Linked DNA regions of Homo sapiens. The protein of the gene in region 3 interacts with the protein of the main gene of each other region in a pairwise test. Each region holds a gene or a part of one and is shown on either strand. Other genes may lie near its edges.

What was found.
Region 1: the proteins of TCF7L2 (region 3) and PLEKHB1 interact in binary tests that used the Homo sapiens proteins (3 or more experiments, as listed by UniProt).
Region 2: the proteins of TCF7L2 (region 3) and RUNX3 interact in binary tests that used the Homo sapiens proteins (3 or more experiments, as listed by UniProt).
Region 4: the proteins of TCF7L2 (region 3) and INTS11 interact in binary tests that used the Homo sapiens proteins (3 or more experiments, as listed by UniProt).

Annotation. Positions count from the first base shown.
Region 1 is NC_000011.10:73,656,576-73,663,346, forward strand, and holds the end of PLEKHB1 (pleckstrin homology domain-containing family B member 1), read left to right. Parts: intron 1-4,177; coding exon 4,178-4,277; intron 4,278-4,890; coding exon 4,891-5,027; 3' UTR 5,028-6,244; downstream 6,245-6,771.
Region 2 is NC_000001.11:24,927,251-24,935,221, forward strand, and holds the start of RUNX3 (runt-related transcription factor 3), read right to left. Parts: upstream 3,027-7,971; 5' UTR 2,619-3,026; coding exon 2,337-2,618; intron 481-2,336; coding exon 324-480; intron 1-323. UniProt on the Homo sapiens protein: Forms the heterodimeric complex core-binding factor (CBF) with CBFB.
Region 3 is NC_000010.11:113,142,244-113,149,275, forward strand, and holds part of TCF7L2 (transcription factor 7-like 2), read left to right. Parts: intron 1-1,679; coding exon 1,680-1,782; intron 1,783-3,767; coding exon 3,768-3,854; intron 3,855-7,032. UniProt on the Homo sapiens protein: Participates in the Wnt signaling pathway and modulates MYC expression by binding to its promoter in a sequence-specific manner. Acts as a repressor in the absence of CTNNB1, and as activator in its presence.
Region 4 is NC_000001.11:1,311,074-1,314,666, forward strand, and holds the end of INTS11 (integrator complex subunit 11), read right to left. Parts: intron 3,293-3,593; coding exon 3,228-3,292; intron 2,849-3,227; coding exon 2,659-2,848; intron 2,520-2,658; coding exon 2,436-2,519; intron 2,052-2,435; coding exon 1,962-2,051; intron 1,877-1,961; coding exon 1,714-1,876; intron 1,628-1,713; coding exon 1,520-1,627; intron 1,494-1,519; exon of another isoform or gene 1,429-1,493; coding exon 1,367-1,428; intron 1,296-1,366; coding exon 1,153-1,295; intron 1,075-1,152; coding exon 945-1,074; intron 852-944; coding exon 786-851; 3' UTR 588-785; downstream 1-587. Other genes in the region: PUSL1 (tRNA pseudouridine synthase-like 1), read left to right, coding at 257-587.

The DNA.
Region 1 (6,771 bases), on a different chromosome or scaffold from region 3:
CCTCACCCTCAATGTTTCTTGAAGGCAGGATCTGGCCTGAATCTTTTCTCTGTCCCCAGAACTCAGCACAGGGCCTGGCATGGGGTGGGTGGCAGGAGGGGGCTTGAGTGAGAGTACCTGTGATCTTATAGTCAACTCTGAGCTCATCTTACACAGTGGTGCTCAGTGTGGCTATGTATCAGGATTGTTTAGGAACTTACAAGCACTAATAACAAGTATTCATGTTCCACCTCTGGATGTTTTAATCTGGCATGGGGCCTAGGCCTAGGAAACCTGTAGTTTAAACCTGTCTCCTGGCCAGGCCTGGTGGCTGACACCTATAATCCCAGAACTTTGGGAGGCTGAGGCGGGCAGGTTGCAAGGTCAGGAGTTCAAGACCTGCCTAGCCAACATGGTGAAACCCCATCTCTACTAAAAGTACAAAAATTAGCAAGACATGGTGTAATCTCAGATACTCAGGAGGCTGAGGCAGGAGAATGGCTTGAACTCAGGAGGCGGACGTGGTTGCAGTGAACCAAGATCACCCCACTGCACTCCAGCCTGGGCAACAGAGTAAGACTCCATCTCAAAAAAAAAAATTGTCTCCTGATGACTCTGATGTGCAGAATCACTAAGCCTAGAAGTGCCTGGGCCACCAAATTGTATAGATGTGGCACTGTTAGATCCTCAGTGGCTTGGAGAGGTTACCTAACTTGATCAGGGTCACTCAACTCATCAATGGCAGGTCTGGGACTCCCAGCCCATCGTTCTGAGGTATTTTCCATGCCCAAACTAGGATGCAAGTTTGTTTAAAGTGGGGATGTCAAAAACTAGGATTTAACAGACTGTAAACCTAATAACACAACAGCTCAGCTAAGGGGAGTCATTTGCATGTGACCCCCTGATTGGTCAACACTGGTTGTACCCACAAAGTAGCTGGGCCTCTGGAGAGGGAGAGGCAGGTTCAAACCCTCAGGTTCTGCCCATGGGTCTCTGGGCTGTCCCTATTTGTTGCCAGGTGACTTATAGGAGTTTACTTCTGGGCCTCCCAGACGTGGAGAGTAAAAACAGGTGCCCTCGAGGGATATGGGGTGCTCCACCCTCTCCAGGGCCTCCCAAGGCCACTGGCTCACTGTGTAGCAGCAGGGCAAGGTGGAGGCTGTGGACCTCAACTTCCCCACCAATAAAATTGGACCTGAGAGCTTAGATCCCTCCAACCCCTTTTGGGCCTGGAGCCTGGATCTTGGCACTGCCTACCAGAAATCCCTATTGGATCACTGATGGGGAGGGAGCACCGTAGAGTTCACTGACTTACGACATTGCTTGTCTGAGCCTCTTGCATTGTCTTGGGACTATATGTTTTCCCTGACTTGAAACTGAACTCAGAGTTGGGCAACCTTAGTTCCAGTCTGGCCCTGTATTTGATTCACTGGAATGAATTCAATAAACATTTATTAGGTACCTGCCATGTTCCAGTCAGATCTGATTAGACCCAGTCTCTGCCCTCAAAGGCATCTCCAAGTCTGATGGGAGAGACACAGGGAAACAACGTGAAGACAGCATGATCGGTGCTGTGATGCAGGGACATCCAAGGGCTGTGAGTGTCCAGATGGGACCCCAACAGAACCTGAGGTTCAGGGAGAGTGATGCTTGAGTTGAGTCTGAAAGACAGGTTGAATGAGGTGAGAAGCATATCCCTAGCAAAGGAAAATGGCATGGAGATTTGAAATCACAAGGTGTGCTTGGAGACCTTCCCCTTACCACCAAACTTCTTGAAAGAGATGTCATGACATGGGGATTGCATCCTTCACCTCTCAGCCTTTCTTCAACCCTCCATAGCTTGGCTTTTCCTACTCAGCAACTCCTCTGAAAAGTTTTTTCAAGGTCACTCACAACTTCCAAGTTGCTAAAACCAGTGGCCTATTATCTTGGAATTGGCCAAAAGAATGGGCAGAAGAACACATTTAGAAGATAAAATCACGAGACCTGGTGGCTGATGTGTGGAAAGCAGATGTGTGAAGACAAGGGCAACAACCTGCTTTCTTTCCTTCTTTCTTTTTCTTTCTTTCTTTCTTTTTTTGAGACAGGATCTCCCTCTGTTGCCCAGGCTGGAGTGCAGTGGTGCAAACACTGCTCACTGCAGCCTCGATCTCCTGGGCTCAAGTGATCCTTCTGCCTCAGTTTCCCAAATAGCTGGGCCCACGGGCATGCATCACCACACTCAGCTAATTTTTTAATTTTTTGTAGAGACAGGTTCTTGCCATGTTGCCCAGACTGGTCTTGAACTCCTGCATTCAAGCAATCCTCCCGCCTCAGCCTCCCAAAGTGCTGGGATTACAGGCATAAGCCGCTGTGCCTAGCCTTTCTTGATTTGAGTGCATGGTGATGGCATGTACTGAGAGAAGCATTTATGGGGCTGGGTACTTTGGGAGGCCAAGGCGGGCAGATCACCTGAGGTCAGGAGTTCAAGACCAGCCTGGCGAACATGGTGAAACCCTGTCTCTACTAAAAATACAGAAAAATTAGCCAGGCGTGGTGGCAGGAACCTGTAATCTCAGTTACCTGGGAGGCTGAGGCAGGAGAATCGCTTGAACCCGGGAGGCGGAGGTTGCAGTGAGCTGATACCATGCCATTGCACTCCAGCCTGGACAACAAGAATGAAACTCTGTCTCAAAAAAAAAAAAAAGATTTATGGGAAAAGCAACAGTTTTAGCAGATGGAGAAATGTTGCAATCATCTTGAGATGAGTGGAGTTTGAGACACCTGGACTTCTAAGGGGAGCTGGACTGTTCAGGTGTGAATCCCAGTTAGAGAGAGATACAGGGTGGAATGGGGCTAAGAGGAAAGATCCAGAAGAGAAGGGGATCCTGACCCCTCTCCAGGTCTGCTCCCCCATGGGTAAAATGAGGGGTTTGGAGTTTCCATTTAATTCAGCACATAGTTCTTGGTTCCTGGTATGCACTTGGCCCTGCTGGTGACACAAACAAATCAGAGTCCTTGTCTACAAGCAGCTCACATTTGGGCTGCAAGAAAGGCCAGGAGAAAGGATAGCAACAAGAGGCACAAGCAAGATCCACAGAATTCAGGGAAAAAAAAAATTCTTCCTGAGACCAGGAGAGCTTCCTGGAGTGGAGTGGGTGACCGTTGAGCTAGGCTTTGAAGGGTTGGCAGAAATCTAATGGGAGAGAGGGGAGGGCAGGGAATGCATTCCAGAGAGAACACTGACCATTCTCTGAGCCTCAGTCCCCAACCCTATGGTCATGTGGAGCTAATACCTGCTTTAAGGATTAGAGGTGGTGTAACACACGTGATCACTTCCTTCAGGACCTGGTACATAGTAGGTGCTCAATAATCGTTACAGCCTAGTGCAGCCTAACAATTTTGGGTCAATGATGGACCACATATACAAAGGTGGTTCCATAAGATTATAATGGAGCTGAAAATTTCCTATCACCTAGTGATGTTGTAGCCATGATAATGTCGTAGGGCAATGCATTACATTTTCTACATTTATATATGATTAGTTAGATAACAAATACCATTGTGTTACAATTGCCTACAGTATTCAGGGCAGTAGCCTGCTGAACAGGTTTGTTGGCTTGGAGCAATAGGATATACCATATACTCTAGGTGTGTGCCACCTAGGTTTGTTTGTAAGTACACTCTATGATATTCACATAACTAAAATTGCCTAAGGACGCATTTCTCAGACTGTATCCCTGTTGTTTAAAAGACGCATAACTGTATTTTAGTTACTTCTCATCCCTATCCTTCCTTTCCCTTCCTTCCTCCCCAACCCCTGTTTATTTCCTGGGCCTGGGGCTTGGCCATGTTCCCCTCCTTGTGACTAGTAGAGCTGGGTCTTTCAAGTGGCATTATTGTAGAGCTGCTAGCAAATATTAGACTACCTATAAGGAGAAATTGGGAGCCATAGAGAATTTTTTGAGCTAGGTGGGAGGCCAGAGTTGGAGAATGGGTGTCACTGGGAGCTGGATGTAGGGCAGAAGTTTTAGAGGACCGTGGACCTTGTGGGGAGGGCAGGGCCTTTCTCCAAGAGCTTGCTAGTGGCTGGAGGCCCATTTCTAAACTTGGGGAGGTGGCTCCATGGATCCCAGAGAGGCCTGTGCCAGGCGTGGGGGTAGGGGACCAAATCCGGGCCAGGGAGTTCCTGGGCACCTGACATGGTTGGATTCCCCAGGTGCGCGTCTACAGCCCGTACCAAGACTACTACGAGGTGGTGCCCCCCAATGCACACGAGGCCACGTATGTCCGCAGCTACTACGGACCGCCCTACGCAGGTAAGTCTCCAGCGTGCCCCGGGGCTTGCCTCGATCCAGCACCGATTCAGCGCCAGGCCCAGCCCACGGTCCGTAAGTCCGGACCAGGCTTCATCCTTTTAGCGTGCACGGATTTTCCCAGGCAGAACTCTCCGCAAGCCCCTCTCCATCCTGAGACTGGGAGAGCTCTGGAACCAGCGTTCGTCTCGAGCTGACCTCACCCTTCTGGGATGGCTCCTCAGCCCTGCGGTCGGCAATACCCATTCCTGAGCCGGTAGCGGCCCCTGGTGGCTACTGCGGGAATGCTGCCTCCTCCCCGCTCTGGGGCCTGGCGGTTGGGAATGCCCATCGTTAGGCGCCTGGTGGTTGTGCTTAGCGATCTCAGGGTTTCCTCGCTGCTCCGCCCTAGCCTGCCGTAGCGGACCCGTAGGTTCCGGGACATCCGTAGCCGATCCAAGGCCTGGGAGCCGTAGGGTGGAGCTCTTCCCGCGTCTAGATCTGTTCTTTGACTGGGGAGCAGGAGAGTGGGTTCGGCGCCTTACACTGGGTTGGGCTGGAGTGATGCAGGAAGGGTACGAAGATCACTCTACTCCCTCCTAAGTCGCTGATCCTCATGGGCTGTCTCCCTCTGCAGGCCCTGGCGTGACGCACGTGATAGTGCGGGAGGATCCCTGCTACAGCGCCGGCGCCCCTCTGGCCATGGGCATGCTTGCGGGAGCCGCCACTGGGGCGGCGCTGGGCTCGCTCATGTGGTCGCCCTGCTGGTTCTGAGCCCTGGGACTCGGAGCACTGACCCCTGCGCTTGGATTGCTAGACTCCTCTTCCTCCTGGACCCCATCCTCTACCATCCAAGCCCTGTCCCACTTTGGCCCTATCCTCTCCATTAGCTCCTTCCGGGTTTGGACCATTCCCCCCACTCCCTACCCTTAATCCCCACATGGGAAGAAGCTATCATCACAGGTACAAACATCGCTTGAAGTCTTCACATCTACCACTAGACACCCCCAAAATCTGTTATAGACATTTATGGATACATTTCCTCTAAACACAACAGGGCACAGCAAATACGACTTCATTTGGCTTCGAGTTCCCCAGGCGCTGTAGACACAACATGAATCGGGCTCTCTGCTCTCTCCTTAGGGAGCTCGAGTCCTGGTGGGGAGAACAGGAGTAAACAAGGACTTGACAAAGCTGAAGAGTTATCAGTCCTTTGACAAGGACAGGTGGGGCAGGGAGCAAGACAGGTAGGCTGGAAGAACAGTTATTGGCAAGTATGCAGAGCCGTGAACGTCATGGCATGTCCAAGGAATTAAATGGGAGTTCATTTGGGCTGGGGTGGAGGCTGGGATCAGACCGTGGTGGGCCTTCAAGCTAAGGAGCTTCCTAGGTGAAAGGGGAGATGTGAGCCTTCTCTGGAGGGAAGTTTCATGATTGCATCTATAATGAATATATTGCCTGTTTTGTGAATACTGACACATGTCCATACCTAAAACACTCCTGAGTCAAGTCCCATCCTTCCCACAAACAGCTTCCTGGCTGGTACCCATGATAACAATTGAGCTGAACCTGGGGACCCCTGGTTGGGGAACAGGTGAGTTCTATTTGAGACTTCCAGCCCTAGAAAGCTGCCTCCGTCCAGAAATGCCTCTCACACCAGGAGCTCGGCCCTCTCTTTGTAGCTGTGACTGTCACCCTCTCAGGCTTTGTCTCATCCTTCATTCTGAATAAGATGGCAGTGTTCTCCTCTGGGGCCTGATCCACCTCTACACCAGCCCAGGAAGCCCCATCTGTGCCTGCCCTCAGGTGGTCCACCAGTCTCCCCCTTTGGTTCCCTTCCAGTCTCTTCCCCCTTTCTATCCCAATCACCAATAGAAATGCTAACATCCCTGCCTGGTAGCCAGACTAGCCCACTAAAGCTCCCCTGTAAATGGGGGCTCCATTAGTTCTGCTGCCGAGACTAATAAAGATTTGGTTGGCTCTAGCAGTAACTGTGGCTTGCTTTGTTCCCCCAGAAGGCCCTGTTTCCCTCTCCATGATCCAGCAGCTACTAGTGCCTTCACTGGTCTAGTGAAAAAGAGTGTGGATTCTGAGATCAGTTGGAACTGGTGACAGCATATTAGCTGAGTCATTTGGGGCAAGTCACTTAACCTTTCTGGATTTTGTTTTCCCTACACTTAAGGTAGCTGGTTGAAGTTGACCATTCCTGAGGGCTCAAGAGGAGGGACTGCCTTGGAGTCTCTGTTGTCTGAGCTGATGGATGATCCAAGCCAGGTCCTGCCTGCTTTCTGAGAATCCTGTTCATGTTGGAGTCTTTTCCAGTAGGTTCCCATCCTTCTAGAGTTGAATCAATGAATTGTTCTCATAGAAAACCAGGTGGTCAGGAAAGGAAACACCATCATCCTGCATCAGGCTTCTTGGGGCTGTCAGATAGAAACTCCCTGTTCAAACTGATTTAAGCCAAAGGGAAAAGGTTAAGCCACATAACTGAGAAGTCCAAGAGCTGTGTGATCCAGGG
Region 2 (7,971 bases), on a different chromosome or scaffold from region 3:
CTTGTTAATCCACCATCTCCTGCCAGCATTTTTTGTGAGACCAGGTGTGCTTAACCGGGAAAGAGGGGGTGGCATGAACGGTTTCAGGAGTTGGTAAACCCTAGAAACTGGGAGAAAATTGTCTTTTTCTGGCAAGAGACCATAACTTTCCTCACCTCCTCAAAGCGATCTGTAATATCCTACAGGATTACAAATTGCTGTTTTTAGACAGAGCTGCATCTGGAGACCTGTTTTTCGGGATTCTAAGGCCCCTCTTTCAACCTCCTTCCCTGCTGCCCCTGCCATTGCCAATGCTGAAATGGCGAGGCCTCCCTTCCACTTACCTCGCCCACTGCGGCCCACGAAGCGAAGGTCGTTGAACCTGGCCACCTGGTTCTTCATGACGGCCGAGGCATTGCGCAGCTCAGCGGAGTAGTTCTCGTCATTGCCTGCCATCACAGTCACCACCGTACCATCCGGCACGTCCCCCAATGCCACCACCTGAAGACACGGGGCGGGGGGATGCAGGGGGACAGCTTAGAAAGGAAGAGGGTGACCAGGGAAAGGAGGGGAGGGGCTGGGCTGGGCAGCTCCCCCAGGTCCCAGGCACACTGAGTATTTCTCCAATGCAGGGTGGAGAAGAGGCTTAAAAACAATAAAGACCTTCCCCCAAATATCACGAAAACAAGAAGATGGAATCTCGAGCTTCCACACCAAAATCCTAGATCAACTGCTTACATAAACTGTGTCCCAAGAAATCATCCTTTCAATGAAATCTAAGCCAGAGCTGTGAATCAGCTCAGTCACTATGATGTGGGGTGCAGTTCCCCTGTTGTCTTCGGCTGCAGCGAAAGAGGAATCAACATGCTCCTAGCAACGAAGTCTCCAAATGAGAAAGAGTAACAACAATAATAACAACAGGGCTGCTACCCCCACTCAATTTATGCAAGAGCTGTTTAGGGCATGAAATTTGGCCCTGAAATGTGGACCAGGCCCAGTTTATTGGCCTCTGCAGAGCCTAAATTCGTTATGCAGAGAAAATGCAGAATGCAAAACTCACTGGTGTTTTGAAAAAGGCCACCAGAAAACCCCTTTAAAGTGAGAGTGGGGCTTTTGATAATGGAAGGATGCACCTGCCGGGAATTGCAGGATGGGGGTGGCGATGTCCCCCTAAACACCATCTCCCCCAAATCCCCCACCCCCAGGAGCACGGAGAGGCGGATGCCTTTTGAAAAAGAATCAGACTTTAAACAGAGTCACAACTATTTAAACGTGGCCGCCGCGTGCAGGGACTGGGGATCCATATGGTAAAAATTTCAAGGAGAAAATGTTTGGGATCTGATTAAGAAGACCAGATTTCCTGTCAACATCCTGTCTTCTTTTAATTTCAAAGACTCCTTTTAAGCTCCAAGTGACAGTAAAACCTCCGATCTGACGATTAAAGTCACACGGGCCTCCCGCCCCTCCCGGCGAGATTTCCCCCACTGGTATTTTAAGATGTCACCCGGGAGACCTCAAAGAGCCACTCTTCCTTTTTTTCCCATTTAGAGTCGTCTTAATGGGAGCAGGGACGGCCTCAGCTTCCAGCCACCTCGGGCAGCACCACCCCCAGCCGCCGGCCCTTCCTGCCCTGCCCTTTTCTCACGGCAGCTGTGAGAGGTTTAGGGGAAAACCGAGGCGTTTTCGTTTCATCTCGCTGCCCCCTTAAAAAAATGAAAATGAAACAGTCGCCTACTCCCTGGCATAAAGAAAAAGGTCCTCTAAATGGCTGGGGGCTGCCAGGGTTAGGGGTCCCCCAATCTCAACTCGCCATTCGGGACGCATAATATCCCCGAGCAAACGTCTGGAGAGCAGTGCCCCGATCCCGGCCTAGCGCCGTCCGGTAAAATTTCGGAAGCCCGAGGGTGTGAGCAGGAAGCTTTTGCGAAGCGGCGCGGGAGGAGGGGTGCTGGAGGCGGAGGGTAGGCCCTTTCACCGTTCGCACCCCACCCGCGGTGTCCTTGCCCCTGTCCCGGGATCCTCTTCTCCGTTACCCGCAGGGCTGTATCTGAGCGATCCGGGTTAGGGGGGCGCAAAACCCCATCCGCCCATTTCCGCACCAACGTCTCTACGCAAGGCGCCCCAAAACCCAGGTGGAGCGGGGCAACCCCGTTAAAAGTCATTCCTGCAGGGCGCATCCAAAACGGAACGCCGAGGTCCCGGAGCCGAGCGCGCAGCCAGACTGAACCGGGTGCCCGGGTGTCGCCGCGGCGTCTCGGGCACCTCCCATCCCCACTGCTCCCGAGGCTCTGGCTCCCGCAGCTCAGACGCCCGGAGCCCCAGGGCCGGCGCCCTCCCGCCCCGGGTCCCGCACTCACCTTGAAGGCGACGGGCAGCGTCTTGTTGCAGCGCCAGTGCGAGGGCAGCACGGAGCAGAGGAAGTTGGGGCTGTCGGTGCGCACGAGCTCGCCTGCGTGGTCCGCCAGCACGTCCACCATCGAGCGCACCTCGGGCCGGGCGCGCCCTCCGGGCCCCACGGCCGCCTGCGCGCTCAGCGCGCCGCTGTTCTCGCCCATCTTGCCGCCGCCGCCGCCGCAGGGGAAGGCCGGGGAGGGAGGTGTGAAGCGGCGGCTGGTGCTTGGGTCTACGGGAATACGCATAACAGCGGCCGTCAGGGCGCCGGGCAGGCGGAGACGGCGCGGCTTCCCCCGGGGGCGGCCGGCGCGGGCGCCTCCTCGGCCGCCGCTGCCGCGAGAAGCGGGAAAGCAGAAGCGGCGGGGCCCGGGCCTCAGGGCGCAGGGGGCGGCGCCCGGCCACTACTCGCCAGGGCCCGCCCGCTGCGAGGCCTCGCTGGCCCGACGGCCGCCCGCAGCCTGCCCGGCTAGTCCCGCATCCTCGGCGCGCGGCCCCGCGTGCGGCCGCCCCTCGTGGCTGTCCCGGCTGCCTGGGCCGCGGCGGGGCCCGCGCGGGGCTGTGCCGCTGCCGCCGCCTCCCGCCCCGAAGCTCGCCCGCGGCCGCCCCGACTCCGCGGCCGCAGCCCCAGAACAAATCCTCCAGAATCAAGTGGCGGGGCCGCGGCCGCCCGCGCGGGGTTAGTACCCCCGGGGCCCGCGGGGCGGGGCTGGCGGAGCGACGCGTCGCACAGCCAATCGGCGGAGCCCCCATCGCGGGCACCTCGGTGGCGTTCGCGGGGAGGAACGGGGCCTGCCGGAGGCCGCCCAACGGGGAGGGGCGGAAGGCGCCACCCCGCGGAGGAGGCCCCAGTGCCACAGCCCAGGGCCCCCGAGAGCTCTGGGAGCCCGGGGCAAATGCTAGAAATTTGCTTAGAACGTCCGGGTCCCACGGAAGGCGCCCTTGCCGCCCTCTCTCGGGTCGTAGCTCCCTGACGCTGGGGCGCAACCCCTTCGCTCCTCCTCCCCGCTGGCCGCGGCCGGGCTTCCCCAGCTCTTGCTGCTTCGGGCCTGTGACTTCTGCAACCCCGGGCTGGGGGCCGCGGGGTCTCAGGGCCGGTGACGCCGCACTGGGAGCCGCCCCAAAGAGGTTACTCACCTCCCTCGTCCCGCACATTATTCTGACCCAAGAGCCTCCACCCCACACGGGATTTTGCGCGTCGTCCACGCCCGGCCGGCGGCCTTTGCTGCTCCCAGCCCTGCGCGGCTTTGGTCCCAGCCTCGGTGGCCCCTGTGCCAAACCGGGGACAGGCGGAAGGGAGTCTCCTAGGGACCCTAAGTAGCCTGGGGCCAACAACCCCTTTCCTCTCTGCTCTCCCCTCAAAACAAGTTTCAGGATCTTGCAGGCCTCGCGGCGTCGTTCTTCGTTGTGGCGGCCTGTGGCTCTTTGAAAAACACGACGAGGCCTGCAAAATGCGTTTTTCTTTTTTTCCTTTACGCATGTAACCACGGTCCTGCATCGTGAAACGGTACGCGCGTCGGTGGCAAAAGAAAAACAGCAGTGGCTGCAAAGCTAAGGGCCCTCGCTTTCAGAGGAGAGAATTTTCTTTCTCCATGCGGGTGGAAAGTGGCCTCTGCGGGTCCAACCCCACTTCTTCTTGGGCCCGTGCGCTCCGGCTGCGCCGCAGGGACCGCGGACAGCTTCGCCAAGGCACTGCCTGCCCGCCCGGCTCCGGGTCCCCGCTCCCACTCCCAGCCGCGTGGCCCAACCTCTCCTGGGCTTCACTGCAAATCACCCCTTCCTCTCCCGCCTCCTAAGTCTGTCGAGCAGACCTAGGGGCCGGCTACAGTTGGGAGGGCAACGGGAAAGATCAAGCCACAATCATTCCGAATTATCGCCCCAGACACCTCCCTAGACTCTGGGGAACGAACGCGTGCTGAGCCTCCCCGCCGCTTTGGAGACGGGGCTAGATTTTCGTTGCCTCCGGCTCTCGACAGGTGCAAAACAATGAATTCCAAGCCTCGGAAGCAAAGAAGCTTAGGATCCGACGGTGGCCGCAAGATCTCATCATGGATCTGACCCCTGCTCAGCGCGCGCCATTTCGTCGTTGCCAAACGAAATCAAGCCCCGCGTGCGCTCCAGGGGCGAAGGACTCTGGACTCACCCCGACCACCGGGAGAGCTGGCCCCTACCCACCTCGGGACCTCACAGCACGCCCTCAGGCCGTGTCGAAAGGAAGGACGGCAAAGGTCCCTTACTGAACCTTTTAAGAGAGCCTGCGCCTGGCAGTTGTCGATTGCGGACCCAGGCCCGCGCGCCCTCGGACGCGCTGGCACGAGCAGCAGAACTAGAGGAAAGCGAGTGATCCAGCCTGGGCGCTCCCACCTCCGGGAACGTCTCCGAGAAGGCGCAGCGCGTCGTGGCCAGGTAGGGCCCTGGCCGGGGGCGGGCAACACGTGCTGCCCTCGAGCAGGTTGCGGGACCATGACCCGCTGTTTCAGGTGGTGGTAAATTCCATTTGTCGAATGGTTTCGGTTTGCACCGTGCCCTTTGCTTGTTCCTCCGCCTGATTTCTCCCTCTCCGCTTACGATGGGTTCACAGACAAGTTTCCAGAGAATGAGGGACTCTTGTGGGCCCTGGCACCTGGCGCAGGGCCCGGCACGGCTCCGGCTCTCCGTAGGGCGCTGGCTCCCCGTGGGCACCAGATCCAAGGGACCAGGGCGGCGGGGGGAGGGGGGGCGGGTGCAGGCCCTTGGGTCCCCAGACCAAGGTCGCGGGGCCGCCTGGCAGGCACAGTGGCGGGAGCCGCCGCTAGTTGGCGCCCGCGCCCTGCCAGCCGCGGAGGTGCGGGCCCGGCCGGGCTACAGATGCGCGCCAGCTGCGGCCCCGGGTGCAGGCGCGGCGACCGCCCCCGAGGAGCTGCCCTTTCCTTGCCATCCATGCGGCCAGGTCTCAGACAAACCGATGGCTTTGTGTCAAACCAAGGCCGCCTTCCTCACCTCTGATAAGATGGACGCCTTCTGTCTTCGCGTTTTCAGGCACCCGGGGAAGACCCACAGAACAGGCTAGCTTGTTCCCAATTTCCACCTGCTTCCTCCCCATCCCGGACCGACAAAAATTGTCGTCTGTTTGATGGGAGGGAGAACTCCGACTCCCCCACCTGGGGCATGCAGACACCCTCGCCCTTCCCCAGTTGGCATGGACCGTCGTCTTTTCTCCCTCTTCCATCAGATCGATGGACAAACAGGCCAGTTTCTCCCCAGTGGCCCCCACCTAAGAGCACCCTAAGTTGTCCACAGCAGGGCTAGGAAGCAGAAGGTCAGGACACTCCCCTACCCTACCTTGACTTAGAGCTGGGTAAACCCAGAACCCATCCCCGGGCAAATAGAGCCAGCTCCTTTGCCCCAGGAAGGGGATTCGTCTCCCTCTGGCATTTAGGAGTGCTCTCTAAGTGCGTTCTTGGCAGTGAGGGTGCCGCCTTCCCAGGGCAGGTGTGATTCATGTGGACTCTGTGGCGCCTGGGCAGGGATCCCCAGGTATACCAGACAAGGGGCAGGTGTGCCCTGGGAAACCGCCTAAGAGGTCCATGGGCTATGGAAGGAGCTGGGGTCCACAGTCCCTCTGCCTGAGCGTGTCTTTTTCCCTCACCCACAGCGCTCTAGGGAAAGTTGCCTAAACCTCTCTGAGCCTCATTTCTTTCATTTGTAAAGTGGGGCACTCATAGTGGCCCTTCATAGAATTGTGTGTAAAGTGCTTAGCACAGGCCTGGCACATGGAGGGTGCTCCAGCCTCCGGGAGCCATCACTGTCATGAAAAAATAAGACCTCTCAATCCTTGCTGGGGGCCTTTGACCCACCCCTCCTCTCTCTGGGCCTCACACTTCCATCTGTGAAATGTCCAGTTCTCATATTCAAAGCTTACTAGGACTCCAAGCCAGTCCATGCTGTCCTGATCCCTCAATTCGCCCACAGGCTGCCTGGGGGAGGTAAGGACTGGCTGTGACCTACCTCCACGTGGAGTCAGCTCATAGCGGGGTTTCCAGCAACCATCACAGGGCGGCCAGAGCTGGGTCTCGATGATTGCCTGTCTGACCATTCCTCTCAGAACCTCACTTTCGCCCCCAGCCGGCCGCCCTCCTGTGGGCAGACCCTTTCCTGAGTAGCAACTGGGCCTCAGCGGACACTGCCAGGGACCCCGTTTCCTTCCCAGGAGGCCTCTGTTCCCCATATCCCGAATCACACAGGAGCCTAGTCCAGCGAAGAGAGCAGAGGACTCTCTTCTAGAACTGAAAATTTCTCCCAGCCTGGCCCTAAATCCCCTGTCCAGAGGGACCCGTGGTGAAACCTATCTCCTGCCCAGTGCCCTAGAACTCAAAGGGGACATTCATGCCCCTCACTGAGCCTCAATTTCCTCTTCTGTCAATGGAGGTCATTCTAACCACTCCATTTCACGGGAGGGGGATTAAGGATTCCCTCTAGGAGGGGAGGGGCATCATTGTGATTGATGATCGATTGTTTGAAGAAACAGAAAGAAAATGCTGCTGAGTAAACTAGGACTCATCTGCATCCTGATTTCAGATAATGATCTCTGAATATATAAGCGAGAAATGTTAATGAAAAATGGCAATATATCTGGGTTGAGGGGTTGTCTCCTGTAGGCCGGGGGTCCAGCTCCAGAGAGTCCAGCTCTGGGGTCATCTATCCTGGGCAGCCTCTCTGGAAGGATTCAGAATGTGTGGGAGCACAAATGTGCTTCTCAAATTACAGAGATCTTTCTTCCTTTTTGGAAAGTTCCAGACTTGGAGGGGAGGGAGAAGGAGCAAGGGAGAGCAGGGTGGTGAGGGTGTTAGGACCCAGATGCTGCCTGTGCGGTCTGAGACTTTTGCCTGGTGTCCACGCTCCCCTGAGCCTTGGTCCCCGAGGGTAAAATGGGAAGAACAGTAACAGCTGGGGGTGCTGAGGCTTTACCTTGTGCCAGGCGCCGCACATGGGCATTGCTCATGGTATTCAATCCCCACGGCGTCATATGTGGTAGGTGTTATGCCCATGTAAGCAAAGAGGAACGTTGTCCGAGGTCAGCCAGGCTAGAGAGGGCCAGACCCGGGTTAAAAGTCTGCTCTGGTTCAAAATGTGGGGCATGAACGCATCACCTGGCCAAGCATGTCAGCACTCTCCTCCTAGTGGCTGAGTAATGGGAAGAGCTAGCATCTAGATACAGAGGAAAGAGCTATTGTGATGGGGAGAGGGAGCTGGGTTTGGTAAATCCTGCTAAGCAGCCCTGGGCTTGGAAATCAGTAAACTCTTCAAATCTGCAGGGAGTCAGGAAGGACTTGCCAGGGTCATTCGGGAGGGTCCTGTGATAGTCAAGGTGCACCCACCACCTGCTCTCCTTTGGCCTCAGAACCAGTCTGCGAGGAGGCAGGACTGGCAGTAGTCCCCAGTTTACAGATGGGAACACTGAGGCCCAGAAAGGGGAAAGGGCGTGATCAGGATCTGGAATGAGCTCCAGCAAGGCCAGGAGCAAGCACCTCGAGGCAAAACGCAGTTGGACAGGACCTTTGCCTTGCAGGAGACTGCAGCCCAGTCCTGGGCCTCATACACTAGCACCCTGATGCCACATTC
Region 3 (7,032 bases):
CCTCCCAAAGTGCTGGGATTACAGGCATGAGCCACCACACCCAGCCCAGCATCCCCTTTTTATCCCAGTTGTTCATTGACTGCTTTTTTCCCAAAGGGGAGAGGGAGGGAAGGTGGGGTTACTTGTAGCTCTCCTCCAACAAGATCTAAATCAGGCAGGCAGCCCCAGCAGCCTGGTGGGGTGGTCTTGGGAGAACAGGTAAGGTTAGTGTGTGTCTTTCAGGCTACCCAGTGTGTTGGTAGGATTTCCCCTTCCTAGCTCAGTAATTGGAAGGATGGGTTTAAAGTGGTGATTGCACATCACTTTGTTAGAGGGGATTGGTAGTGTTGGGGTAGGTAGGCTGCCTGGTTAGGCGGCCTTCACTGCCCCTGAACGAAGCCACACATGAGCTGGGTTTTACTGGTCTCTGAGCCCCTTTGTGCTGGTGCAGGACTGAGCCTGGCGCTTGGATGCCTGGTGGCCTCCTCCAGCCGGCCCCAGGCTCCACCAGTGAATGGCAGCGTCAACGTCTCATTTAAATAATGGTAGTACAGGGAATAGCTTTTAAATGGTTATCGTAAAACATATGATTAACGTCTGTGGACTGTTTACTTTTCCTCTGCGAACATTCTTTCAAGTGTGCAAATGGCTCGATGTAGGGTCCAAGCCCAGCTAATCTGTTTGGTTTTTGTAATAGAGAGAAAGCAATGTCTGCATGAAAATGTCACCCAGGGAGACTTAATTTACAGATTAAAAGCTTCCTGAATGAATTTTTTAAAAAATGAAGTCGTTTTCGTCCACGAACATGCAGCCCGTTCCCTCCATTACTCTGTTTTAATTCTGTGGTATTGTGCCTTTTGCCTCCCACTTCAATGGCATACATCAATTCCTCTCTGTCAGAGTGGACTACAGGATGTGCTCCTGTGGAACTGGCAGATGTGCGGTGGCACGTACTTGCAGAATCCGCTCATGTGTGCCTTGTGAAGCTCTTAGCCCCTGCGACGCACGCGGTGCCCATTCAGCAGGTGGGCTTAATCCCCACAGACGACTCTGTCCTCTAGCGGATGAAGTTCCAGAATGGAGTACACAAGCCTCCAACACCTCCTTGTCTGTTCAGCTCTGACTCTGCCTTAGATAAGATGCCAGATGGCATTTGATCAGTTTCTCCAGCTCATCCAAATAGAGGCAGAGACATTTTAGAGGAGTCACCATTTTTGAAAAAAGGCAAGGGTAGTAACTTTTCAAATGCCACAGCTCAAAAAGTGTGTTAGAAATCAGAGGAGTAGCTCTTGTGCAGGTAAGGCATGAAACTCCGCAGGGTGAAGGGCCAGAGTTGTAAGAGCAACAGGGATTACCATTGCTTCATTCTCCACCAGGTGCTGAGCCTTTTTGATGTTGTTTCTTTTAAACTTGAAACAATCACACCAGTCACATGAGGCACAAATACCCAAGATGGCATATCTTGAGTCTACTCAGTATACCAGTCCATTTAGAAGGAGATAAACTAATTTTTCAAACTGAGGCTGAGGGAAAATGAGATGAAACCTACCAACAACTCAGGATTTATAATCATGAATGAACCTTGTGCTAGGATTCCAGAAGAGATGCGTCTCTTCCTCCTTTCCCTGTTCCCATCCCCTAATGGATTGCTCTTTCCTTCTCTCCCTCCTTTGTACCTAAAATGCTGCTTCTTCCCTCAGGAATCCCACGGCCTCCGCACCCTCCAGATATATCCCCGTATTACCCACTATCGCCTGGCACCGTAGGACAAATCCCCCATCCGCTAGGATGGTTAGTACCACAGTAAGGAGTTCCATTTTTTAATTTCCTTTTTGTTTCTTACATGGGCATGTTTATTATTTATTCTGTGTGTGTGTCTGTGTGTGTGTGTGTGTGTGTGTGTGTGTGTGTGTGTATGTGTGTGTGTTAGAAGCCAGGGTTGGGGAGGGGGCTGCGGGAGGGCACAGAAAAGGTGTTGCTGAGGTGTCCTGTGGGAATACAGGCAAATCCACAGCCATTCAGGTGGCTTATGTTACTGGCACTTAGCATTCCGCGACCATGGTCCCCAGAGGCTCTGTGGACAGAGGTGCCCTGCAGTTCCTTTGGGAATTGCAGAAGACTACTGGAACTTCCACCCAATGAAGCTGGTCATGACCCTTCTGCTGTTGGCTGCCCAAACTGCAGTCATGTCATTGGGTTGAGGCTGTCGAGTCCTCCATTTTAGGTGTTACATATTTTGGGGCACAGAAGCAGGAACAAGAACGGCCTTGTTTTGAAATCCAGGGTTGGGATTAGGGCATGTTCTTGTATGATTCCAGGACCCCCCACCTCATCCTGAACATTACTCCCAAGGTTGACAACAACAGTGGAAAGTTTTGTCTGTTGAGAAGCTCCATGGGACTGAATCAGCATCTCTCTGAGAGTCTTTGCACGTTGAATGTTTTACCTAACTGTGAACGGTGGGAATGGGGCATTTGGAACCGTCACTGCAGCATGTGGGGCCTTCGTAAGCATCAATCCTAGCTCCTGGCAGTGCCCAGATTATTTGACTAACTTTTGCAACTTAAAAAAACTGTGTTTTAAATTCAGAGTAGAAAGGCCTTTGATGCATTAGCATACTGTGGCAGGTTGTGTGTATGTATATTTTTGCATGAGCATGTGTGTAATATGTGTTTCGTGATTGTTTCTGTGGATGTATTTCTCCTTACCAGTGATCTGTACTCTGAACAACACAGGACAATACATTGAATGCTAAAAGGAATAAATCCTGGTAAAACTCAGGTTTGAGTCTTAGGGAAGATGGCCTTTCAAAGCCTTAAGGAAGATAAAATTTTGGAGTGGCTTACCCCACAATTCTACCCGTATTTCTCTAGTTAGATAGATTCTATGCTGTTTTTTTTTTTTTTAATAAAAAACAGATTGCATTATGTAGTAGCTGTACCAAATACCAACCCTGGGTATAGTTTCTGTTTCTCTGTCTCTTCTTATTTTTATTGGGACGGTAGACATGAACATGAGCTTGTGACCCATTTCTTCTAAATAGATGGGGCCAACCCTCGAATAGTTCTCAGTGATCATTTGCCCCATTCGGCTGATGGGGAGATATTTGAAGGCTAGATAAAAAGGAATAGCCAACTCAGACAACCCTCTGTCAGAAAAAGTTGTGTGTCTTTCATGAGGATGCTATTTTGCATGTTGCTGTATTTTTTAATTATTGTAATGAGGTGTGATTGTCTATTGGTTACCCACAATTCTTCTTGGGGACTCTCCCCCCGGTAACTCTTGTCAACACTTGTTAATTTGACAAAAGGCTACAAATTAAGCTCTGTTAATTTAATGTTTTCTCACCGAGATCTAAATACCGAAAGAGGCCCAAAGCGCAACTGAAGTCCTTTGATTCACTGTACTTTATTTTGGTATAAATTTACATTCATTATTGTTTTCCTTTGGATGTGTAGCCCTCAATTAGTGTGATGGCTCCATTAAAGCAAGCGAGACTTCGCCTTTAATTATTACAACAAAACACCTAGTTTCAGCTTGGGGAGAGGGTCTCTATTGACATAAGCAGAGGTTATAAAATTTAATTAGCCATTCCTATCAGATTTATGGCATTCAAATTGTTCTGTGTTTCTTCCCTTTGATCCTTCCTGTACAATCCCCAAGATTTTTGTTCTGATCAAATGAGAATAAAGCTTACTGTGCAGAGAGAACTTTTCCCTTTTCTTCTTTTTCTTGTCCCCACCCCCACCCTTGTTTCAAGTCTCTTACTTTGTACCCCTTCTTTGTAGGCAAGGTCAACCAGTGTACCCAATCACGACAGGAGGATTCAGACACCCCTACCCCACAGCTCTGACCGTCAATGCTTCCATGTCCAGGTGAGTTCCAAGAACCGGGGCCTTCATCCAAGGCCATGTGTGACTTCTCAAGAAGTTCTCTAGATGGCCACCAAGCCACCCAGGGACCACAGCTACATGTAGTTCTATTAGTGTAAAGCCAATGTGGCATTAGGCTGTACTCCCAGAAAATCCTGAAAAATTGCCCTGAAATTCCAAGGTAAATGATGTCTTTCTGGGTAAAATTTTTGAGTCACTCAGTTGAACAATGTATTTTAATGAATTAAGAAGGTAAGGGAGAAACAGGACAGAAGCTTTTAAAAATGCCATTTCTCTGTTGTCCTGTCCTCAGCAAGAAAGGTAGCGGTGAAGGTAGTTTTATTATTATACCAAGAAGAGTTCGAAAAAAGATTACTGGTGTTCTCAAAGCTCAGACTCTGATTGCAAGTCAACAAGAAAGCATCCGCCTCCTCCCCTCGAAGGTAGCACTGTCCAATAGAAATATAGTGTGAGCCACAGAGGGAATTTTAAATTTCGTAGTAGCCGTGTTTTTAAAAAAGTTTTTGTTTTTTTTTTTTTAAAAAAAAGATAAAGTTATTTTTAATGACATGTTTTTATTCAATGCAATATAGCCAAAATATTATCATTTTAACATGCTATTCCTGGACAACAACTATTAATAAGATGTTATGTTCTTTTTTGTGCTGAGCTTTGGTACAAAATCTGATGTGTATCTTATACGCACAGCACTTCTCAGTTTAGACTGGCCACATTTCAAATATTCAATAGCCACACGTGGCTGGTGCATATCATAGTGGTCTGTGCAGCTCTAAGTCTTTGAAAGTTAAAAAAAAACATGTGTGTGTGTGCTGTACATTCATATATATTTATATTTCAGCGTAGAAACATATTTACAAGATACATTCCTATCCCCATGTTCTTCTTTTCCTCCCTCTGATTAATTCTGGCTAATTTTTCAGTGACTGCTAGTTTATTTACAAACTGGTTGGCAGCAGTATGTTTTAGTCGCTAATTGTTTCTAATGATAGTTTTATTTTCTGTTCATCTGATTTTCAGTCAAGTTAATTAAATCGGTGGAGGTTTAGACTTTGCTGATGGTCTGAAATCACCAACCCATTCTGATGATGGCACATAATGAAATTAGCATGCGTTACATGGCAGGGGTGCTGTCCCCAGCTTCTTTCCCCAGTCCCTGTGGCCAACATGGGAAGCCAAGACCAGAGAAGGGCCTGGAAAGACAGGTCAAGATGCTGCTTTTCCTACTTACAAAACAGTAACTTTAGCAGTGATAGAGAGTTACATTCATTAAGAAAAACAAACCGTGGCATATCTAGCATCGGTAACTATGCCGTGGATATCATAGTTGAAGAGATCCATTTTCTACCTGCGATATATCATCAAAATTTCAAAATCCATGCCAGTATTAGTTAGGTAGGAAAACGCTCGTGTGTTCTCTGGCCTAGAGAGAAGAGGAGGCGTAACACTTATTAAATAGTGTCATCACAGCCTCGCAAAGCATGGGAATGAGTAGGGGGTCTCCCAGGTGGAGAGCACCCAGGGACCACGGCTACATGTCATTCTATTAGTGTAGCAGCTTATACTCCACAGCTCATCTTCCCACCTTCCCAGCATTTGTATATTACACCTGGTTATTTTTCATGTTTGTTTATTTGGTGCGTTCTGGAGGTTAACAGTGGTAAAGTAATTGTAGGATAGGGATTGGGGTTAAGCTGATCGATTGAATTATCATTAGGAGGTTAGTCGATGAATTATAGGTGGGCATGGGGGTGGAGGAAAGGCAGGGAACGTCAGGAAGAAAGGTTAGGGCCTCAAGGTGCGGGGAGAGGCGGCCGACTCCCCAGGTAGGCCAAATGAAAGATAGCTAGTTAAAAAGCATATACAGCAAATTAAATACATTATTGTGATAATGGGGCGACAGAAGTATAGGTCTATTATACTTATGGCAGTTATAGCAAATGTAGGCAGCTTGCCCTGTTCCAGAACACCCTTTGATATTCATTCTATTCAGCAGTGGGGCCAGGACTTCTCAGAATTAAGTGATGGGTCATTATACTTTAAACACCATGGAGAAGCCTAGATTGGCAATTAAACAGCTCTTGCTGACACTCACTTGTGCCACCCTGTGACCCCCTTTAGATTGAGATGTTGGAGCTCCGGGCCCTCAGCCTGCTAAATTGGTGCAAGGCTCTTCTCCTGACGAGAGCCGGCTCTGAAATCTGCCGGCTTCAAAGGGAGCGAGATCATGTATAAACCATAATGTGGGTGCACCGTGGCTCACAAAAAATAAGGCAGGAAGAGATGAAATGTTACAAGTGCAAGGGGGAAAATGAGAGAATAATGACAAACCTAATGCAACTCAAAGCAGGATTGTTGCACAGGAAAATGCATCCTACTGCTTGTGCATAAAATCAAGGCCGGCAGATGACATCCGGTTAACAGAAACGTGTCAACAGTGAAGTAAAGTGAGAGTGAGTAAGAGAGAAGCCCCTGAGACAGCCAGAAACAAAAATTAGTTGTTCTTAACAAGTTAAGGTTCATCATTATATTCTGGCTTGGAGCCATGAAAGCAGACGGGGGTATATAATGAGCTGCTTAGAATTTTTAGGGTGTTTATTGCATTTCATGAAATAGTAGTCTGCAGAAAGGAATTTCTTAAGCGAAGGTATGTGTATACAGCCCACATCCATGTTCACACATGGTCTCTTTCTTTGCTGAACATTTTTCAGATATGGGAATATACGCGTAGGTATGGGAACTTAGAAATGTGCCTTCTTCATGGCTGCATTAGAAGTTTGTCTGCACCCCAAAATGTACTCAGATTGTGGTGCCTTCCCGTGGTATTTGGTGTATGTACACACACGTACACACACACACTCACACATGCAGTGTTTTTCTCTCTCCCCCTCCCTCTCCCTCTCACGTCTGTACACATATTCTCATTCTGCAGGAAGGGAACATATGTATTTGAGGAATGTCAGGCCTTCAAAATTCACAGTAAAAGCTGCCACCCACCACTTCACCCAAGGGCTTCCAAGAACACATGTTCTTAACTTCTGTTTCCTCTGAGGCCTTCGAGCAGTGGGAAGGAACAGGGTGTCACTTGGAGCCCAAGTGTCTCCCAAGGGGTTTTGCTTTTTTTGTTTTTCACATTATTTTGAGAGGAAGGGGATGAAGATGA
Region 4 (3,593 bases), on a different chromosome or scaffold from region 3:
AAGAAAAACAGGCACGAGAAGCTCCTGTCATGTGCCCAGTGACTACTGTGGCCGAGGCATGGGGTGGGGGGCCAGGGGCCACTGACGGCAGCAACTGGGGGTGAAGCAGCCCCCCGCCCAGGGCTGCAGTCCCTCAGGCCAGCCCGTAGCCCGTCCTGGGCTGGCCCACTCCCTGGTCATGGGAGTGGTCTCAGCGGTGGGGAGGGTGCTGGGCCGGTCTTGCCCCAGGCTGACGCAGGGTCTGGTCCGTCCACAGGTGCTGCCTCCTGCACCCTGCAGGGGCCACAGTTCGGGAGCCACGGATGACCCTGGACACTCAAGCCAAAGTTAGGCCACACCAGGCCCAACCCTGTGCTGGTCAAGCCAGGGCAGTCACAGCTGCTTGGGGCCCACAGCACTGCTGCCTGGTCTCCACAGTAGCCTCCCTGCCCGGGTCCCAGCACCCTGGATGCCCGTCTCTGTCCCAGGCGGGATGGGGCACAGTGCAGGACACAGCCATGTACACCAAGAAGAGAGTACCAAGTAGTCTTTTGTTCAGCTTTTACTGGAAACTGCTGTCTAGGACCACCTGCCCTAACCAGGAATAAAGGCAAGACAGCCTGGAGACCAGTTTGTTTCTTCAGCTGCAAACAGCTGCCTGGGCAGGCAGGTGACACAAGGCCTCTGTCCCCAGGGATGGGACCTGCAGGGTCTGTTCACCCAGGGCACCCACAGTCCTGAAGTGCAGGCCCAGGGTCTGTCCAGCTGGGAGAGGGCAGAGGTGGCGGCTGGGTGAGTTGCCGGCCTCAGCTGGGGGCCTGGGGGAGGCCCTTCTTCAGCAGAGATGTGAGGAAGCTCCCCAGCTCCTCGTCCTAGGGCAGAGGCAAAAGCATTGTGGGTGGTGCAGGACAGGGAGGAATGTTGATACCTGTGTTGACCGCGGTGGGGTGGGGGTCACCCCTTACCTGGTAGGTCCAGGAGACCAGCAGCACCTTGGTGCCTGGGTCCTCAGAAGGGGCGGCGGCCTGGAGGAGGACGGACTCCACAGTCACAGAGCCGTCTGGGAGGTGCTGCACACAGTGGTCCTTCAGGACGCTGTGGGGAGGCTCGGTGAGACCCTGCCTGGCCTCCAGGGCCCAAGGGAGTGGGGGGGGGGCGGGGCCGGGCGCCCACCTCTTGAGGTGGCTGTAGACGCGCAATGCCGTCTCCTGCTCCTTGCGTGTGTCATGCAGGTGCACGCGGCAGGTGAAGCGCAGCTGGTGCTCAGCCAGACCCAGCTCTTTGAGGGCTTGCTCTGAGGACACCAGCCGGAAGTTCTGTGGGGCAGGGACAGGTCAGTGAGCGCAGCAGCGGCCCTCCCCCCTCCAGAGACCGTCCTGGCACTCACGCTGTCCTTCATGATCAGGGTGCCGTGCAGGAGCCGAGGCTTCTTGGCCTCAGGGAGCAGCCCTGCGGAGGAGGTGGCAGGAGCCATCAATGTGAGGGCCGCTCCCAGCCGCCTGCCCCGAGCACCCTGCCCTGCCCTGCCCAGCCCGCATACCCTGCGCCATCTCCCGCTTCAGCAGCCCCAGCGAGATGCCTACGGGGATGCTGGGGCTTGTGGGCAGCGTCACCGTCTCGCCATTGGCCGGCATGTAGCAGTTGACCCCTGGACCCCGGGGGAAGAGAGAGCCTCAGCCCAGGCTGCCCGTGCTGACCCGAGGTGGGCCCCACGCCGCCCGCCCGGCTGCCTACGGAGCTCCTGCTCGATCTTCTGCTTCAGGAACTCCATCTTCTTGGCCTCGCCATGCACCAGCAGCACGCTCTCCGGCTCTGCCTGGCCCACCAGCTGCATGATGCCCTTGGCGTCCGCGTGTGCGCTGAATGACATGTACTCCACCTGCATCTTGACCTCCAGCTACAGAGGCCACGGGGCGTGGACAGTGGTTACCACCAGGAGGTGCCCCTCGGCCCTGCCAGCCCAGTGCGGGGTCGAGACTCACCACCTGCCGCCCCTCCATCTCGAGCTTCCGCTGCCCGCTGAGGATCTTGTGGCCGACGGTGCCCTGCACGCAGTAGCCGGGCATGATGACCTGGGGGCAGGCACAGAGCTCACAGCCAGGGAACTCCAGCCTTGGCACCTCAAGGCCTTGCCCGGGATGCCCCCGCCTGAACCCCTGGAAGCTGTTTCCACCTGCCAGCGGCGCCCGACCAAGCCTAGCTGCAGACTCCAAAGGGCTCAGGTTTTGGCACAAGACTGTCCAGGGCTGGGCTGGGGCTGTTCTGCCCGAGGTGGACAAGCTGTGTCACAGAGACTGAGCAGCTCCAGGCGGACATCGCCCCCGTTCCCCAGCAGCAGCAGCCACGTCCCTTGGCCAGCACGAGGCCAAGCCAGTGAGAGCTCAGAGACAGCATGGGTGGAAGGACAACCCGTCGGCCTCCAGCTTCCAGATTCCCACACCTCACCATGCCCTCACCATGTTCTTTTCGTTTCCGGCCCATTTCCGGAAGATCTGCAGGGACTGCCCAGCGTGCAGCATTCCTGGCGTGGCAAACACAACCTACAGGACACACAGGGCCAGGTGGGGGGTCAGGGCAGCAGATGCCCCCACCCCCACTGCAGGCCCAAGCCCAGACACCTGCGGAAGACAGGAGACCGACGGGTGTGGATGTGCTGGCCGGCCCTGCCGCGGGCCTCACCATCGGTCCTGGGTTGTCAGCAAAAGCCCGGTCGAAGGCCTTGATGTGCTTGAACTCAAACATGTTCCTCTGCACGAAAGTCTTGCGGATCTTCTGGTTGGTCCAGGGGATGAACAGCTTGTAGTAGTGGTTGGCCTTCTCGGTCAGCCCCGTGGAGAAGTAGATGGGCACCTTCAGGTTCATGCGCTCCCTGGGGACCACCGGCCCAGTCAGCACAGTGGCCACAGGGGAGAATGCTGCAGGGCAGGACTCGGCCGGGTCACCCCCAACACCCGTGTCTGCACAGCCCACGCACGGGCCAGGTTGAGTCCAGTCGCGACCACTTGTCCCATTAAGCCCTGCAGCAGCCGGGCTCAGCGGAGAACCAGGAACCCCTACAAGAGCCGCACACGGTGGCGCTGACGGGATGTCACAGGCTTCCTGGGGTCACACAGCACACGAGCGGCCCCCCAGGACAGCAGCAAGCAGGGCCAAGATGCCACCGCTACGCTGGACAGGGCTGCCCACCAACTGGACTGTGTTCAGGCCGGGCCAGGGGCTCCTTAAAGAGCCGTCCTGGCGGCACCTACCAGAAGGTCTCCAGGAGGATGCAGAGCTCCTGGGCGCGGCCCAGCGCGAACACAGGTATCAGCACCTGAGGGGGACACAAGGCAGGAGCCCTGGGCACATGGCCCCTCGACACAGCAGGCAGCGTCCAGTGAGGGCACGGCCAGGTGCCCAAGAGCTGCGGCCTCATAGGGACCTTAGCCTCTCATCTGCTCCCAGTCCCGTCCCAGCCGCTCTCCAGAGACAGAAGGGAGCCGTATGAGAGACAGGAGGGAGCCGCATGAGAGACAGAAGGGAGCTGCATGAGAGACAGAAGGAGCCTGGCCAGGGCTTCGTCCGCACCTGAGGTAGGAGGGAAAAGGGGCTCCCTAGGAAAGGGTCTCTGAGTT